2 linked regions of the Homo sapiens genome follow. The protein of the gene in region 2 purifies or fractionates together with the protein of the main gene of each other region. This does not show direct contact. Each region holds a gene or a part of one and is shown on either strand. Other genes may lie near its edges. The genes, in order: PARVA and HNMT.

Region 1 (3,816 bases), on a different chromosome or scaffold from region 2:
ATAGTTCAGAGAAGTCAAAATGGCAGAGGATGTATTCAGGAGAGGTAGAAATGGGTCTTGCTGATCCCTGTATACATGGGGGCAGAGGAGGAAGGGAGAGGATTCTATGAACTCAGAGGGGATGAAACAGCTTTAGAAAAGTGGATGAATTCAGTCTAAAGCAGATTCAGGTAGAGGTGCCCAGAGGGCAGCTAAGGATTGAAGTCGAGAATCTGAGGGGACGGTTTGGGCCACAGTTAGATTAGGAGCAGTGGGGGACACCTTAACTCCATTCAAGCTAAAATTTGTCCTTTCAACACTAAGATTACCCCTGAATTCTCCTTTCTCTCCCCATTGTCCTTACATTTTCACATGAACAGCTGCAAAGTGACCCAGGGAGGAATACACACACACACAAGTCCACAGATGACAGAGGAACACACACACATGCATCTGAAGGTGACAGAGGTCTAAAAATGCATACTCAGGCCCATGCATGTAAATATACCGACAGAGGCCACACAGGCATGCTTTTCTGGAGAGGCGGAGGCGTGCTTTCTAGTTATTAATATACAGTGGGGTCTTTTCATCTAGCTGATGATTCTTGGCTGCTAGAAGGAGCAGGCCCACCTAGTCATGGAGACTCCCTCTACAATTCATTCATATGAAACATTCCAAGAGGACATCTAAAGCCTTCACTGAGCTGTTATTCCATGCTCCACACATTTGTAATCCATTTCCAGGTAAGCCACTGTAAACTGAGAATAACTCCTTCTAGCTACAAGTAGGTGATCCAACCACCTGCAATTAAACACACATCCATTGCAGCACTCAACTCTCCTACCGAAAAGCTTCTGCAGGACTTGTCCATCATACAAATCTTCAGCTAGGTCTTTCACAATGATTCTTTCTCCAACCAACACATCATTAATCCAGTCAATTAATACCTACAGAGAGAGAGAAAGGGAATGTGCAATAGTAAGAAAAGAGTTATGGGGTATTTTCTTACAGACCAGCTTTCTTATCCTAAACAATTAAAATCCAAATTAACTTTAGATTTTAAGTTTCATTTTATTTGAGATGGGGTCTCACTATGTTGCCTAGGCTGGACTTAAACTCCTGGGCTCAAGTGATCTTCCTGCCTCAACCTCCTGCATAGCTGAGACTATGGGAGTGTTCCATTGTGCCCTGCTTTGAACTTCAGATTTTAAAAGCAGGAGAACTATCCACATAACCCAGTGTGTGCACAGGTAGCTGTAAGTGTGAGCCCTACTGGCCTTCTTAATTTTCAGATGTATATCCTGCTAGTGCCATGTCCCTGTTAATATCTATGTCCCCTATTATTCCTTACTCTAATGGCAAGCAACACTCACAGTGTACGGCCATAAAAAAAATTTTAGGCTGGGCGTGGTGGTTCACACCTGTAATCCCAACACTTTGGGAGGTCGAGGCGGGCAGATCACTTGAGGTCAGGAGTTTGAGACCAGCCTGGCCAACATGGTGAAACCCCGTCTCTACTAAAACTACAAAGATTAGTCAGGCGTGGTGATAGGTGCCTGTAATCCCAGCTACTTGGGTGGCTGAGGTAGGAGAATTGCTTGAACCGGGAGGTCAAGGCTGCAGTAAGCCGAGATCGTGCCACTGCACTCCAGCCTGGGCAACAGAGTGAGACTCTATCTAAAAAAAAAAAAAAAGTTAAGTATACAGTGATATGTCTTGGTCATTGTGCACAGTAGTTTAATCCCCACCACAATCGAGATACAGAACAGTTCCCTCCCCAGTAGGATGCTTCCGTAGGTCCCTTTGTACTCAATCCTCATCCCTGACCACAGGCCTGGGGGAACCACTACAGTTTTGACATTTCTCCAATTTCTTATAAGTGGACATCGTCCTTTGTGTTGGACGTCTTTGCCTTAGCATAAGTATGCTGCCTTTATAACACAGCAATAGCCAGACAGCGTTGCCATCCCTGGGTGGGCTGATGTTGGAGTCTGGAGGCTTTTGTTCTGCTGTCCCAAGGCAAGAGGATGGCAACTGTAATACCTACTGTATACCAGGCACTGCACTGTATCCAGTAGAGTAAGACCCAGCCTCTGTCCTGGAGAGGCTTATGGGGGCAGAAAACCGGTCAACCAAAGGATTATAACATAAAGAGTTCAAATCCTGGGGTGGGGAGGACATGGTGCTATGAGAGAGTAGAGAAGAGGCCCCAACAGGCTGGGAGTGGGCAGGAGAGATCAGGAATGAGGGGAGGCTTCCAGAAAGCCTTGTGTTTGAGGAGACTTTTTTTTTTTTCCTTTTGAGGCAGGGTCTTGCTATGTTGCCCAGGCTGGAATGCAGTGGCTATTCACAGGTGCAATCATAGTGCACTATAGCCTCGAACTTCTGGCCTCAAACCTTCATCTGAAAGTAGCTGGCATTACAGGTACATGCCACTGTGCCCAGCTCCTAAGAAGACTCTTAAACTAGGAGTTGACCAGAAAGAGTAGGATTTCAAGGTGGTCAAAGCAGCCTAGATCTAGAAAATCGAACCTCCCTCTGGAAGTACGGAGGTAGCTGTGCCTTTGGTCAGCACCCCAGGGCTCAGGCCTATGTGCATCTCCAATCCTTCACTCTCTCAAACAGGGCCCGAGTGCAGGTCTAGGTCTGGGAGATCAACATTGAAGCCTAAACCATTTGGAGCCCATTCTGACCGTCCTTACCCTTAGAGGTCTCCTGAGCAAGTAGTAGCATACCCATTCTAGCATGGTGAGCGCCCTCTGATAGGAGCAAGCCCAGGGCTAGCCCCTTTCCCCCTACCCTTGCCCACACAGGCCCAGCACCCCGGAGAGTGTGCAGCGGCAGGCACAGCCTGCACCTCAACTGTTCCATCTTCTTCCTGCACAGAAAGGTGAGGGCTCAGGGTCTCACTGGGCAGGGGCAGTCATCTATGGATGCAGCACAGACTGCATCAGGAAAGGCCAGATACCCAACATGCACAGCCCAGCTGCCTGTGAGGCTCCGGTTGTGATCCAGGGGAGCAAGGGGCTGCATGGCGGCCTAGCCAAGGCTGCCTCCTTTCTCTTAAACTCTGGGGTCAGGGCACAGACTCCCTTCAGCAGACAGAAGGGACATTTACACATCTCCTCTGAGATGACTGCCCTCAGTCCTCCAGTCCCTAGTGAGATGGCCCAACCCTCACATGGGTTTGATTTTACTTCTGAATACTCCTGGCTGACTTTGAAATTCCTACCCATTCATCCACCCACCCTTCCTTTCCTCCTTCCATCCTCTAATGTTTATTAAATACCTGCTATATGTGACATTCTGTGCTAGGTCCTTGGGGTACAATGATAGAAAAAAAAGACAGTCTCTAACCCCAAGAAGCTCACCATTTAGTAAAGGAGACAGAGAAGTGCATGAGAAGCTATAATATTACGTGGAGACGACAACAGAACTAAGGATAGGGTTATAGCAGCCGTGGAGTGGTTGAGCCATGGCACTAGAGTTTAGAGCAAGCTTCCTGGAGCAAGCAGCCGTGCTGAGACTTTCAGATGAGGGGCATGAGAGGCATTCTACTCAGAGTGGACTGCATTAGCCAGGCTTTGGCGGTGGGGAGCGCTGGGAGCACGCATCGGCTGCTGGGAGCAGCAGTTCTGGCATCCTTGTGTTGCTGGGTAGTGGCTGATCTCAGGTTGAAGAGGCAGCTAGAGCAAGGAGTCTAAACACCACCTCTTAGGAGTCGACTGCAACCTGTGGTGGATGAGAAACTCTGAGAGGTCTTGCACAGGGGAACCGTGTATTCAGATTTGCATGGGGGAATGAATCACTCTGACATCCAGTGCTATTTTTTTTTTT
Region 2 (4,432 bases):
TTAAGTGATCTTCCCACTTCAGCGTCTGGAGTAGCATGTGCATGCCGCCTTGTTCAGCTAACTTTTTCACTTTTTTGTAGAGATGGGATCTTGCTATGTTGCCCAGGCTGGTCTCAAACTCCTAGGCTCAAGTAATCCTCCCGCCTCAGCCTCCCGAAGTGCTAGGATTACAGGCGTGAACCAACACATCTGGCCAGTATTTTATTTGTTAACAGCAATTCTGGTATCTAAAAGACAGTGGAAAAGTACCTTTAGATCTATTATACAAAACCATTTTCAGTATAGAGTTCTATATCCAGTCAAACGATTAACATAGAACCAAGGGATTTTTAAACATACAAAGTCTCAAAAAGTTTACCTCTCGTTCACTCTTAAAGTTCTTAAAGAATTGTTCAGGAAACAAAGGACCGAGGAAACAAAGAAAAGAAAGGCATGAGATATAGAATCAGGGAATCAAATAATGGAGAAAGAAAATGATTCTCAGAAAGTGAAATAAATTCCCTCCTTAATAGTTGTATAGCAGGCCAAAGCAGATCTTCCTAAACTGAAAAAAAGAACAGAGGGCTTCAGAAAAGTTGTTCCCTTGGGGTAAAATAAACAGATTCCTTGATATGTTTGCATATATTGAGAGGAGATTAATATATCTGCTTGGGGATCAAAATAGTAATAGGTACATGGAGAACTAAGAAAAGAAACCAAAATCAAGGCAATAGTCAACTCTAGGGAGAACAAAAAGTTGTACGTAAAAGGAAATATAAGCATAGTCGAATATATTGCTCAATTATTAAGAATATGTACATAGGCAAAATAACATAAACACTCAAATTATTTAACCAAAATTTTGACTACATATAGTGACATGATAGGGTGGGAAATATGCATGCTTACTTAGCTATTTTAATACAGCGAAATGAAGAAATAGAACAATAACATGTTATTTTGAATTATGAAAGAAAATTCCATAAATAACTAAAAGATTTCAAAGTGCTGAAAGTGGTTGCTTCCGGAGAGTGGGAATCAAGAATGGAGTGGGTGGGGTTTGTTATAGTCCCCACACACTTTAGAACCATTTGATGTTTTAAAATATGGCATGTCTTGCTTTAATAAAAATTTAATAGGCTCGCTCCACACTCAATTAGCACAGTGAGCCACAAACTCAACAAACCCTGCCCTAACATACACAAAGAGTATCCTAATCACATTTTGGTACTTCATAACTTATAGACAACTCTAAGTAACAATTTTAAAAGTCCTTCAGCTAAATCTTATTTCAAACATTACCTTCAGGAAAAAAATAAATGACACTGAATCTGATCATTCCTAACTATATACTACTGTTATAAGACAAACAGTGTGCCCTTAAAAATTCTTCAGTCTTTCACAGATTTTATAATATTTCCAGTTAGATTTAAACTTTGAAGATAAGGAAGGGGTCATTCATCATCGATTATGTTATCTCCATCCACGGTACCTCTTCAAACCAAACTGTGTATGGCTGAAGAAAACCAAGGATCTGGTAAGCTACAGACATGAGCAAATACTTTTAGTACTGAAAAAGAATTGAGAAATTAACTCATTACCTTTAACTTTAGAAATGAGCAAAGAAACCCAAAGAGGTTAACTATAATTAGTTCCTAGGTAAGAAGTTCTCTATATTTGCTATTTGCTTTGATGTTTGCATCCTTATCCTATTACATATTAATTTTTAATATATAATATCCTATTTTTTGAAAGCTAACATTTAAAATCTGAATCATGTTAAATAGAAAAGGAAATAAAATTTTATGTACATCTAATAATGCCTGCTCTGGTCAGACATAGGTACTGCCCTGGTGAAAGAATTTCAGGCCTGCAATAGAGAAATTCAGCAAAAGATAAAATACCACTTTCCTTTGCTGTTTGCAAATTGGATCCATAGTCATTTCTTCCCAGTTTTCCATTATTATTTCCTGAAGTAGAATGAGTTACAGCAAATCACCCCCAGATAGGTGATTTGATTATCTTTAGCATGTGGAATCTGTTACTCTCATAATGCTTATCAGCTCTGGCACAAATTGAACACATTAATCACCCAAAAAAAAGAACTCTGCAAGAAGGATAGGAACCAGTGAGTTTCACTGATAATGGGAAAATGGTTCTTTTTTTAAGGAACACATTGCTAATATTAAGCTGAAAGAAAAAGACAATTTTGAGGAAGAGAGTGATAACTATAACAATGGATAAGGAAAATTAATTTAAATGGATATTATGAGAACTGAGGCACTCAATCCTCAGGGCAAATCGTACTTTGGCAATTATTTATATTTGATTCTAATGAAAAGCATACCAGACTCCCTTTGGGACTTTTTTGGGATGTAAAATTTGGAGGAGGGCTGAAAAATCTGAGTTCGAAGATTAGCATCTTATCTTTTCCCAAATGAACATGGATTTGTGCCTTCAAATGGTTAACGCTTATCTCTATGCAGCTGGAAATACAACACAAATGGGAGCCTTTGAGTGTTCAAAGCAAACGTGGAACCAAAGCACTGCAGGAGAAAGGCAGGGCAGGGCAGCGAGGAGGGGACGACGGGGAGCTGCTATCAGTAATTCGCCCTTATCCCTGTGCCCAGCCTGCGAGGCTGAGCGAGACCCATCTATCACTGACGCACAGCCAGTCTGAGGCTTGTCCCTTTGACAACAACGTCCCTTTTGTTACCTTCCTATTATGCCTGGCAGCTTCTTGTCCATGAATTCCTGCATGCACTGGTGTTCCGTGGAATGGTTGAGAAACCTCCGGAAAGATTCAACATATTTCCCGTGGTCAGAAAACAAGCTCCTCATGGAAGATGCCATATTTGGTTTTCTGAGAAAGACAGAGCAGGAAGCAAGGTTTAAGTTCCCCTCCTTCTCTTCCCAGTTCCCTCTTTCTTTCCCCACCCCCACCAGTTTCTATCCAAAAAAAAAAAAAAAAATGCTAAGCTTGTTTTGAATTTAACATGCCACAAAGGCTGGCTTGTAGAGCTCATTACTGAGTCAATATTTGAACGGGACTTTGCACTGATACTTTAACCCCTATACGGTTGTTTTGTAAGAAATAGAAGTATTAAGCAAGGCTGTAAATCCACTGCTAAAACTTTTCAAATTCCTGAGGTTGAAAGGTCATAAAAACAAACTGTATTCAAATCACTTCCTGTTTTGTCAGCAAAGCCACAAGTAAGTTCCAAGTGGGAAAGTGACTGTTCGAAGTGGCAAACACCAGGATAAAGAGGACAGCTACACAGCACTCTCAGAAATCTACAGCAGTGAAATCTTTAACGGAAGACTGTCATCTGCCTCTGTGCTTTCTACGGGATTGTTTTGGGCCTTTACATTCCTCAGCACTTGAATTTTCAACTTATCTGCTGCATTTCTTCAAATGCTGATTTGTTGTAACTCAGAAATTATCTTAAAAGGAAGTCACGAAGGAGGAGCCCAAGAACTCGTAGCTAGAAGGTGTCAGAAGCTGCATTTAGGGGAATGAGAGTGGTAAGAGAAGTCTTGGAGCAAGAATGCAGGACACCAGGGTAAAAGTGCAGTCCATAGAATCCTTCCCTAAGCGCGCTGAACACGACGAGGTCATAGATACTTCGCTTGGCTGGATGAGCCTTTGGAAACCCAGTGGTGTCCCCACCAGAAGAGCCAAAGCTTCAGAGTACCCACACACAGTCTTTTTCCTGGGAAGAGGTCTTTAAGAAGGTCATCCTTTATCTAATATTGGGTTGTTAATAATAGCATCCAACTCATGGAGGAGTGCTGAGGATCAAATGAGTTAACTCATATAAGTCTCTTAGAAATATGTCTGCTTAAACCGTCCCTTCTTCTAATTGAGTTCCCAAGCTGCCCTCTAAGCATTCAAAACACTTCCCAACTCTCTTTTTTTTTTTGAGACAGAGTATCGCTCTGTCGCCCAGCCTGGAGTGCAATGGTGCGATCTCCACTCACTGCAACCTCCGCTTCCTGGACTCAAGTGATTCTCCTGTCTTAGCCTCCCGAATAACTGGGATTACAGGCACCCGCCACCACGCCTGGCTAATTTTTGTACTTTTAGTAGAGACAGGGTTTCACCATGTTGGCCAGGCTGATCTCGAACTCCTGATCTCAAGTGATCCACCCGCCTCGGCCTCCCAAAGTGCTGGGATTACAGGCGTGAGCCACCATTCCCAGCCCCCAACTCCCTTTTATAAGTATGTTTTGTTCTCACTATTCTTAGAGCCAGTGCTTTTACCCCGGGGGAAAGTGTAATATCTGGACAGGCAGATTGCCATGGATGACTCTGCCCTTAATGAACTGTCTGACTTTGGCTGAAACATAAGCTGCAGTTTGCTCATCAGTAAAATGGGAATGAATTTTATCTTATAGGGTTGTACTGAGAATAATATAACTAATGTTTAAAAAGTGCAAGCCAGTCCCTCTG

The links.
Region 1: the proteins of HNMT (region 2) and PARVA fractionate together in Homo sapiens (co-fractionation; one large-scale study listed by BioGRID). This does not show direct contact.

Annotation. Positions count from the first base shown.
Region 1 is NC_000011.10:12,474,957-12,478,772, reverse strand, and holds part of PARVA (alpha-parvin), read right to left. Parts: intron 927-3,816; coding exon 824-926; intron 1-823. UniProt on the Homo sapiens protein: Plays a role in sarcomere organization and in smooth muscle cell contraction. Required for normal development of the embryonic cardiovascular system, and for normal septation of the heart outflow tract.
Region 2 is NC_000002.12:137,962,892-137,967,323, reverse strand, and holds the start of HNMT (histamine N-methyltransferase), read right to left. Parts: upstream 2,852-4,432; 5' UTR 2,833-2,851; coding exon 2,696-2,832; intron 228-2,695; coding exon of another isoform or gene 209-227; exon of another isoform or gene 1-208. UniProt on the Homo sapiens protein: Inactivates histamine by N-methylation. Plays an important role in degrading histamine and in regulating the airway response to histamine.